Regions from separate parts of the Homo sapiens genome. Here region 1 is linked to region 2. The links come from fine-mapping of genetic effects on gene expression. A gene starts in region 2. The other region holds a variant in brackets. All regions are shown on one strand. Distances are from middle to middle. Region 1 has its middle 30 kb from the start of SLC60A1. Region 2 holds the start of SLC60A1 (solute carrier family 60 member 1).

What was found. PIP is the estimated chance that this variant, and not a neighbour inherited with it, causes the effect.
Region 1: its variant is the best candidate, but not a certain one, in a credible set for the expression of SLC60A1 in sun-exposed skin (GTEx, PIP 0.52).

What each region holds. Positions count from the first base shown.
Region 1 is chr1:205,535,843-205,541,209 of GRCh38, forward strand. No RefSeq gene overlaps it. Among named protein-coding and RNA genes, the nearest start is that of SLC60A1, 30 kb to the right of the region's middle. RefSeq lists an enhancer at 595-1,096. The variant T/C (reference allele first, on the strand shown) is at 2,717.
Region 2 is chr1:205,566,782-205,572,148 of GRCh38, forward strand. It overlaps SLC60A1 (solute carrier family 60 member 1), which reads left to right and starts at 2,233. Exons shown (of 10, transcript NM_181644.5): 1 at 2,233-2,518. The coding sequence starts at 2,289. It overlaps SLC60A1-AS1 (SLC60A1 antisense RNA 1), which reads right to left and starts at 2,524. Exons shown (of 4, transcript NR_152721.1): 1 at 2,348-2,524. It also overlaps the pseudogene RNU2-19P. RefSeq lists enhancers at 2,514-3,063, 3,064-3,612.

The DNA of each region.
Region 1 (5,367 bases), 31 kb before region 2:
GCAATGGAGTGAGACCCTGTACCAAAAAAAAAAAAAAAAAAAAAAAAAGTGAGCTATGTTGTGTAAGGGGGCCAGGTGGACAGCCAGGGACAGAGTATTCCAACAAAGGCCCTGAGGTGAACGTACTTGAGAATGAGTGAGAGGCAGTGAGGCCAGGGCACAGTGAGCCAGGCAGCATGGCAGGAGGGATGTATCATGTGGGGCAGTGGCTCTGCCCATTAGATCCACCTGGGAAGTGCTTAAGATCCACTGCCATCCGGCCCCAGCTCAGATTGATTCAGATGACCCTAACATGTATCCAGGGTTGAGAACCGCTCACTCGTGCGGGGTCTTGCGGGCTGTGGTACGGGTTCTGGATTTTATTCTGAGATGGGAAGCCACTGGCCTCTGTTTTTAAAGGCTCAGAGGGTCAAATAGGAGATGTCAGCCCCTATAAGGAGGGTGATGGGGCAGGGAGAGGAAGGATCCCCCAGGTGGTGGTAGAGCAGCAGCAGGTGTGGTGGGAAGGGAGAAGGGAAGCACCTGCTCTCCTGTGTTGCTGCGAGAGGGACTGTCATCCTAATCCCAGGGAGGGCCACAGAGGCTCTAGGGTTAGGTGACCTGCATGGCCACACAGGGAGTAAGGTGGACTGTCAATTACAACCCAGGTCAGCCTACCTGAGCAGCTGCCTCCGGGCAGGTGTGGGCACTGGCACGGACACTCCACCTCACTTGTTTGCATGGAGGATGGGCATCTGGTTTCCAGGGACTGGGAAATCCTTGCCTTCTGGTCACCTAAAAGCATTGTCTGACAGGCAGCCAGTTGACACCTGGGGGTTGGGCAAAAGTCACTATCCCCCACCCCACCAAGTGCCCCCTGAGTGATGACTCAGCCCCTCTTCCGGACCCTCAGAACCTCCCACCATCTGCCAACTAAAAGCATCATTGGGCACCAGGGCCCTGCTCCCGCCCTAGCTGTGGAGGCCCGGTGGCTGGCATCATTGCTGATGGTCAGTGCCCAGACTCCAGGGAGTGTGTGCCAATTCTCCTAGACAGGACGGGTGGGGCCAAGGGCAGCTCTGATGAGATTGCAGGTGCCACGTGGCCACTCCCGCTTCCTCCCTTGTTTTCTCCTCTTCCTTCTTCCTGCTTCTTTTTACTTCTCTCAGTGCCCCTTGGGGGCACTAGGTATTACTCAGTGGGCGGCCCTGAGTAATACTGAAACCCAGAGATCAATAATTTGACCCAGCCTCTTGTCTAAGGAAGGAGATTTTGCAGCCTCTCCCTTGAATCAACCCAAGCCTCCAGTCCCTGAGATGTGTTCTCAATGCCAAGCATCAACCCTTGCTCCTGCATCCCTGGGCCCTTCCTGGTGATGTGACGCAAACATGGAGAGCTGAAGCATGGACAGGGCGTGGCAGGGAGGATCCCCGCTGCCCTCCTGCATGTGGTCAGCACTCCTGCTTGCCCCTTTCTGGGCTAGAAACTTCTAGCCCAGTTCCTCATCTTCCTGTCTCCTCCAGAGCTCCTCCCTCCCTAATTTACTCATTATCCATCAGATGGTTCCAGACTCTGTGCCAGGCTCTGTTTTCAGTACCCAGGATACAAACTTGACCCTGACTTAGACCCCACTCCCAGGAGCTCAGCATCTCAGAGGCGGCTAGGATAATCTTTTCTTCCTCTCAGCTTCTTAAGGTCTCAGCTACTTGGGGGAAAGACAGTTGTCCATTAGTCATTCTATTAAAATTTCCTAAGGTTTTTTTTTTTTTCAAGAACAATAAAATGTTTTAATGTCCTCATGTTTTCCCTGGAGGAGAGATTGGCTAAGTCCTAGGTTCCTGGGAAGAAGGAATCTTGAACAACCAGGGAAATAACACACAGGCTCCAAAATCACAGACTTGGATTCAAATCCCAGCTCTACGGCTTGCAAGCTGTGTCACCTTGGGAATGTTCCTTAACTGCTCTGTGCCTCAGTTTCCCTCTCTGTAAAACGGAGATAGTGATAACACCTATTTCACAAGGTTGTGAGGATTTAAGAATGAATATTCAGGCCGGGCGCAGTGTCTCATGCCTGTAATCCCAGCCCTTTTGGAGGCCGAGGCGGGTGAATCACTTGAGGCCAGGAGTTCGAGACCAGCCTGGCCAACATGGTGAAGCCCCATCTCTATTAAAAATACAAAAATTAGCCGGGCGTGGTGGTGGACCCCTGTAATCCCAGCTACTTGGGAGGCTGAGACAGGAGAATTGTTTGAACCCAGGAGGTGGAGGATGCAGTGAGCTGAGATCGTGCCACTGCACTCCAGCCTGGGTGACAGAGTGAGACCCTGTCTCAAAAAAAAAAAAAAAAAAAAAAAGACAAAAAGAGAATGAATATTCAGGAGGGGCCTGACCCAGAGTGCTAGGTGAGTGAGCTTCACATCCTCACTCTGCACACTCCCACCCACTTCTCCACAAGCAGGAATTCCAGCTTCCTCCCTCCTGGAAGTAAAGTGGAAGATCATATGCTTTTATTTCTTGCATTCTTCACTCTTGATAAGATCTCAATCAGCAAGAATGTATTAAGAACATCCTACTTAAAAGATTTTGCAAGACTTTTAAAATGACCTCAGCCCAGAGTTTTTTCTCCACGGAAGCTTTAAACGTAGCTGGGGAAGTAAACATGGAAAGAGAATTTATGATAAAAGGCACTGGGTCAGGCGTCACTCAAAGTGGATCCGCTGCCTCTTGAGGTAGTAAG[T/C]GCTTTGTCCCCCAGACTGGGAAACCACTTGGGAATTCCAGGGGCATCACTGCCTCTGGTATGTCTTGCCAGGTTCCTGAGGAGCCAGCAGCCAGATCTGCACCTGGCCTGACCCTATTCCTTGGATCTTTCTTTTTTGCTGTGCGGAGTAGCAAGGTGTAACTGGCAGATGAGATACCTTCCTCAGAGAAGCCAGAGGAATGTGGCAAAGCATGATCCTGGGCTTGCAAACACCCTTCTCCTTGGATTCCAGGATGCCAGGGGTATCCTCTCAGGCCTGTCACTGGCTTTGAGGCCAGACTTGGCTTTTCAGGACCTGAGACTGATTCTGGGGTGTGGGAATGAACTAATCTGGGACTTTTTTTTCTTTTTTTTGAGACAGTCTCACTCTGTTGCCTAGGCTGGAGTGCAGTGGCATGATCTTGGCTCACTACAACCTCTGCCTTCTGGGTTCAAGCGATTCTCATGCTTCAGCCTCCCAAGTAGCTGGGATTACAGGCATGTGCCACCATGCCCAGTTAATTTTTGTATTTTTAGTGGAGATGGGGTTTCGCCCTGTTGACCAGATTGGTCTTGAACTCCTGGCCTCAAGTGATCCACCTGCCTCGGCCTCCCAAAGTGCTGGGATTACAGTCATGAGCCACCATGCCCAGCCCACAATCTGAGATTCTTAAAGCTCGAGTTGATGAGAGTAGGAGGGCCACCTCAGGGAACAGGAGATGGGGCCAGAGGTTAGGGCTCAGTACTGTTTCCTGCCTTGGGCAGATGCCTTGAGTGGGTACCTTCAGCCACCTGTGATTCCACACCTCCAGCCAGTGTTCCACTTGGTAATGGAATTTACTGCCTGGCTTCTCTGTAGAAGATGAGTGGGGGTGGGGCGAGGTTGAGATTTATAAGCAATAGAGGCAGTGCTGTGCCAGGCTGCCTCAGCCTAAGTCCTGGCACCACCACATCCTAGTTGTATGAACTTAGCCACATCGCATGGCTTCTCTCTGCCTCAGTTTCCCCACCTACAAAATGGGGTGATCATAGGATGAGTGTGGATTAAATGAATTAGTACATGAAAAGCACGCAGAGCCCAGGCACGGTGGCTCACACCTGTAATCCCAGCACTTTGGGAGGCCGAGGCGAGCAGATCACAAGGTCAGGAATTCGAGACCAGCCTGGCCAACCAACATAGAGAAACCCCGTCTCTACTAAAAATACAAAAATTAGCCAGGCATGGTGATGCACACCTGTAATCCCAGCTACCCAGGAGGCTGAGGCAGGAGAATCGCTTGAACTGGGAGGCGGAGGTTGTGGTGAGCCAAGATTGCGCCACGGCACCCCAGCTTAGGCAACAGAGCAAGACTCCGTCTCAAAAAAAAAAAAGAAGAAGAAGAAGAAGGAGGAGAAGGAGGAGGAGGAGGAGGAAGAGGAAGAGGAAGAGGAAGAATAAGAAGAAGAAGAGCACGCAGAATTTACTGGTCATGTAGAAAGCATTACACAGTGTAAGCTGTTGTTATGTCATCTTTCCCTGAGGGTAGAAGCAGGCATCACCCACCTTCTCTGTTTCACTGTGAGGGCTGTGACCAGGAGGCAAAGGCTTCTTACTAAAAGGAGGAATGGTTCCGTGGGGCACACAAGTGAATAAAACCCTTTCTGTCTATGGAGAACTACCTGTCCTCCCAAAATGCCATTAGAGTTTGGGAATTCTGGTGTCCCTTACTCTAACAGATACCGATGTTAGGCAAAAGGCTATGAACTTAACAAACATTACCTAAATTTTAAAACTTTTTAAAAGTTAAGAGACAAATCTTTTGGGGGCCAGGCACGGTGGCTCACGCCTGTAATCCCAGCACTTTGAGAGGCCGAGGCAGGTGGATCACCTGAGGTCAGGAGTTCAAGACCAGTCTGGCCAACATGGTAAAATCCCGTTTCTATTAAAAATACAAAAATTAGCCGGGCATGGTGGCATGCACCTGTAATCCCAGCTACTCAGGAGGCTGAGGCACAAGAATTGCTTGAACCCGGGAAGCGGAGGTTGCAGTGAGCTGAGATGGTGCCACTGCCCTCTAGCCTGGGCAACAGAGTGAGAGTGTCTCAAAAAACAAAGAAAAAAAAACTCCCTGGGTCCAGGTCCGGTACTCACACCTGTAATCCCAGTGCTTCAGGAGGCTAAAGCGGGAGGATTACTTGAGGCAAGGAGTTCGAGACCAGGCTGGGCAATATAGCAAGACCTTGTTTCTACAAATATTTAAAAAGTAGCCAGGCATGGGGGTGCATGCCTGTAGTCCCAGCTACTCTGGAAGCTGAGGCAGGAAGAGCGCTTGAGCCTAGGAGTTTGGGCTGCAGTTAGCTCTAATTGCACCACTGCACTGGAGCCTGGGCGACAGGGCAAGACCTTGTCTCAAAAAAAAAAAAAAAAGTCTCCTTGGCTTAGACCACTCTGTGAAACACTAGAGATTCAGAAATAAATAAACAGTGTTCTATCCTCAAGGAATTCACAGCCTGGTAAAGGAGAGAGATATCGGTTGCAGAAATGTGGTAGGGATTATCCCAGAGATTGTAAACAGCTGCCCAGATGACTTGCTCCTTCCACCTCCCTCCACTCCCCTTCCTCAGCCCCTGCAGTACCTACCTGGTTTGCAAGCCTTGTAAACTGAGTTGGG
Region 2 (5,367 bases):
GGCACTCCTGGAACCAATCCCCCCACGGGATATGGGATATGGAGAGACAACTGTAACTTGTTTCCATATCTGCTTATCTCAACCAGAGGACCTTGTACAGTACCAGAACCCAATAGGTCTTTGACTATGAAGAGGCTGAGTACTGTATTCACGGTGGAATGCCTCCCTTTATTTTTACTTACTTTTTATTTTTACTTTTTACCATTTTAATCAAGTATAACTTACACACAAAAATGCACAAATCTTAAATCTACAGACCAATAAGTTTTTACATATATTTACACCTGTGTAACTACCACCTAGATCAAGCTTCAGAATGCTTCCAGCATCCCAGGCACTGGGGGCTACCTCATTGTGGCAGGGTCATTTGTTACTGTGGCTAGAGGAGCTGAGCCAGCAAGGTGCTGTAGTTGGGGAACGCCATTTAGGGAAATTATGGAAGGATTTCAGGTGTTTGGGCTAGAGAAGCAAAATCATTAGGGCAAGGTCATTTTGGGTGTGAAGGACTTACATGACAGAGCAATTAGATTTGTTCTGTGTGGGGCCGTGGGGAGCAGTTACAGGGCGAAGCATTTCAATTTTGCCTAAGACCATTTCTACAACCAGAGCTCATCCACACTGCAAGCAGAGCCCCTAGGAATATGCAAGGTCCCCAGCACTAGAGGTGTCAGTCAAGAACAGGACTGGCAAGCATTCAAAGGCAGTTATGGGGAGGGGATAGGGGACTCAATTGGAGGCTATTCCTTCCAATTCTGAGCTTCTATGGTTCCTGGAGTTCTGTGATAGTGGCAGAGAAGACTCAGTCAAAAACTTGTGGTTATGATTTGTTTGGTGTTTTTTCTTTTTTTTTCCCCCAGAGGGTAGCTTTTCAGTTTATTACAATTACTGTGCAGGCCCCCCATCATCACTATCGAATAAGTACTTGTCATTACCCACAGAGTGATGAGCCAGAGGGACCCTGGGGCTCCCCCTTCTCTGGGGCTCACTGTCCAAGAAGGGATAGGGCAGATGCAGGGGTGCGGCTATGAGATGGGACCAGTACCTGCAAGAGAAATTGGTTGCCCCACCTCATGCCAAGTTGTCTTGGGGACACCCGCCCACATACCTCCTCAGTCTTTTCAGCCCTGGTCCCCCTGGTGGGCCAGTGGAAATGATGTCATGGCTCCTGTCATTACCAGAAGACCTGGGCAGAGGGGACACCGCAGGGCCTTACTGTTCTGCCTCCAGGGGCCAGATCCTGGCTCCCTTAGGAGCGGGAACACACAGAACCCACCAGCCAGCCCGAGGCCACCTAATGAAGGGACAGCCTAGGTCAGCTGCAGGCTCCTCGAAGGACACCCAGTCTAGAGAATAATCAACCCCTACTCACTGCCAGGGATTTATCCATGGAAGAAAGAATTTTCCCCAGAACTCTTTTTAAATTTTTTTTTCTAGGAGATTATTTCAGAATTCCTCCCGGGGTTCCTCCAGGACGCGGCCCTTCCCTCTCTGCCCTCCTCCAACTAGTTAGAAGGAGAGAGAGAGAGTCAGCATAGACCAGCGTCATCCTCCTCCTTCCCGCACCTGGCCAGGTGGGGAGGAGGGCCTCATCTCAGGCCCTTCCAGGGAGCTTAGTGTGAGGAAGATGTTGAGTTTCTAGGGTTCTCCTTCTAAAGGGCAATGTGATTAACCTCTTGGGGTTCTAATGAAAGCCATGCACGAATACTCTCCCAAGGAGAAACATATGTACAACAAGATTTTGCCTTCTGTTCTGGGGGAAAGGGGGGTGCCGTTAGACCCTCGAAGTCCATCTGTGAAGCGCCTAGGTTTAAAGGGGTCCGGGTTTCCTCCACTGCCACAGCCCGGGTGCGGGGAGAGGGCCCCTAGCCTTATCCGGAGATACAGGATGTCTCGGGCTCTCCATCTGCCGGGCTCTAAAATGGGCGCTCGGTCCCTGGGGGCTGCATCCGGAGGCTGGGGGGACTGGTCGAGGGAGAGCGGGCGGGGGGCAGCGCGGCTCCCGGTTGGTCTCCGCAGCCGGGGGAGGGCGAGCATGTGCGCTCGGGTAGGAGGGGGAGGCCGGCGCCTGGCACCGCACGGGGAAGGCGCGGGAGCGGACGCACTGCCCACCCGCCGCAGAGGCGCCCCCGCCGCCGCCCGGGCCCAAGGGCGGGGCCCCTCGCTGGGGCGGCCCCTCCCCGCCCCTCCCTCCCCGCCGCGGGCCTCCCCAGCCCGGCCGGCCCTCCCGCGGGCGGCACTCGGGCACCGGGCTCGCCGGGACCAGATCCGCGAGCCCGTCAGCCTGCGCCATGGGCTGCGACGGCCGCGTGTCGGGGCTGCTCCGCCGCAACCTGCAGCCCACGCTCACCTACTGGAGCGTCTTCTTCAGCTTCGGCCTGTGCATCGCCTTCCTGGGGCCCACGCTGCTGGACCTGCGCTGTCAGACGCACAGCTCGCTGCCCCAGATCTCCTGGGTCTTCTTCTCGCAGCAGCTCTGCCTCCTGCTGGGCAGCGCCCTCGGGGGCGTCTTCAAAAGGACGTGAGTGCCGCGCCCGTGCGCCCCCGCCCCGCGGCCCCCGGCACCCACCCTCGCCGGGCCGACCCTTCCCTCCCGCCCCGCGACCCGGCCTCTCCCCCGGCCCCGTGGGGCTGCCCGTCGCCCCCGCCTCCCGGCCGCGACCACCCCTCCCAGCTCCATCTTGGCCGAAGAGCTGCCTCCCTCCCTCCCTCCCTCCCCCGCAGCTCTCCCTGGAAAACTCTCTCCAGAGACTGAAGGTGACTTCTGGCTTATTTATTTGTCATCACTCATCCCTGTGAGAGGATAAAACCAGTTCCCACCTGCTTCCCCCACCCACCGCCCCGTGGGGAGAGGAGTGATAGAGTTTGCAGAGGTGGGGAGGGTGCCCCTCTTACACAGCTCCTCTGGGGTTTGTCAGTAGCCCCGGCTGCCGGGGGCGGGATTGGCAGTGAGGTGGAAGGACCGTGGGAGGGCCAGCTCTGTGGCGGTGCAGGGTGCTGGAGGTGGCCTGCGGCTTGACTGATTCCCAGGGCCAGGCTCCACTGTAGGCAGCTCCACATCAGCTAACACAGGCTGTCCCTTCCCCCGGGTAGCCACGGGGTTTAGTGGGTTCTGTGTAGCCCTCCTCCTGAGGCAGCCAGAACATGGTTCCTGCATGGGCCCCCGAGACACACAGGACCTCACCGTTAAGGCCAGGTTGGGAGGGGCAGGGCACTTTACCCATAGCTTGGTAAGGTGACTCTCCAGCCCTGGTGCCAAGGTTCCCCTCCACTCCCCACCCACCTCATCCTACTCCTGCTGGGCCTCTGCCCCACGACAGGGCTCTGGACTCTCCCTGGCACCACCCCCAGAAATCCCCCTTTGACACTATTGCAGAGCCTTATTCTCTCGGCTTAAATTGGACAGGGCCACCTCCGGGCTCCCTTGTGGAAAGACAGCCAGATTCACTCTCCCAGTGCAGCATGGAAAACAGAGACCCATAATAGAATAGGGAATAGATGACTTGCAAGCCAGAGGCTGCTGCTTGATTTCCCCAGTCCCAGCTCCTGGCTGAGTGGTTTCCTAGATCCCATGGACTCAGTCGAGCAAGCAGCCGGCCTGGAGAAAAAACCGCAGTTGGGCTATCCCAGAGAAACCTCTGGAGGGGCCGTTCTGGGCTGTGGTCATGCCCTTTGGCTTAACGCCTACAGGTGTTCGTGAGGGCAGGTGTTTCCATCCACCTTGCTTCCAGAGCTGGTGGAAGGAGCACAGGTGTCAGTACAGATGGACCCCACTTTAAGCCTTAAAAACATGACCAATTTTGGAAGCGATTATCCCCATTTTCCCCAAATCTTCTTGTAAACCAAATTATTCTCTTCTTAAAAAGCAAGTCTCCTTGTGTACACCAGTGTTTTGTGGGTGTGGTACAGGATTGGAATATACAGAAGATTCAGAAAATCTTAAGGACAAGCTCAAGATTCATTCTGCCTAGAGGTTTAATTAGAAACTAAGATAAAGTATCTGTGGCTAGCACAGGTTTTTTGGTTTTAAGTACTTTGACTTACAAAAGCTCCTTTACCTGGAACTTTTAAAGAAAATATGTAGTGCAAAGAACACGGAGGGGAAGGAGGATAATTTGAAATGACAGGTTGGCAGGGCAGGGTTTGTGAAGCCAGCAGAGATGCACACCCACCCAGCTGGGCCATCTCTTCCTGGGTAGTTTTGTATCTTCCTCAGCACTGCTTACCCAACAGGGGGCTCTGAACAGGCAGCAGAGAGAACCCTGCAGCAGGAACTGGCTCACAGAAGAGAAAAAAAATCATGGTAACAATGATAACTAACTTTATTCTGCACTTACTGTGTGCCAGGCACTATTCATAGTACTTCACATGTATCAGCCCATTTAATCTTCACAACCACCTTGCGAAGTAGTACTGTTATCTCCATTTTATGCATAAGGAAGTGGAGGCACAGAGAGGTTAAGAAACTTGGCCCACATCACATGGTTGTTAAGAAGAGGCCTAGACAGAATTTGAACCCAGGTGTTGTCTCTAAGACAGATACTTAGGCAATCCCTCTTGCTTTGTGAGTCATCAGTGTAAACTCTGCAGATCAGGCACAGGTTTGGGATGAGTAGCCCTAAGGATGCTCATGGGCTGGGTATTCCTGAGCTCTGACAACTTCTGGGAATGTAATGGTGGCCCTCTGGGGCTTCCTGCTGGGATCTTTTTGGGGTGGGGTAGATCCTATCAGTGGTTGAGGTTTAAATTCTGAACCTCAGTCCTCCCACCCCCAAGACAAAATGCCATGAAGAACTCTTTCCTTTGGTTAAGAGCAAAGCAGATATACAGTGGAAACAGAGGGATGTCCAGGGGTGGCCTTGAGTGTAGGCGACAGTCTCCCACCACCTTGCTGACTCTGGGCAGCTCTCATCACAGTCTCCCATCCCCCCAGCCAGAAGCTCCACCAGCCCTGCAACAAAGCTTTAAAGCTGGATTCTGTGGGACCATGTCTCAGTTAAAATGCAATACCCCTGCAAGCAAGTGCTTTGCAGCTTAAGTGATTACCAGCTAACGCTCTCACTTGGTTTATACTTGTGAGTGGGGGATTGCTTTAACAAATCTGTGAGAGCCAGCTGTTGCGGGGGAGTGGGGGAAAGTTTAGGATGACACATGGGAGAGGATAGTTGGGGGCAGTGTCTTTCTCGTGGGTTCCTACTCAGGTCCTGCCTACTGCTGGGCCCAGACTGAGGGCACAGGCAGAATGGGGCTTGTGGATGCCTCCATAGGGATGTGCTTTGGGAGGACTACGTGTGGAAGGTGGAGAGCCTTGGCTATTGGAGTGGGTGCAGGGGAAGACTTGAGCTCAGGGCAGCACCAGCTTGCTCACTC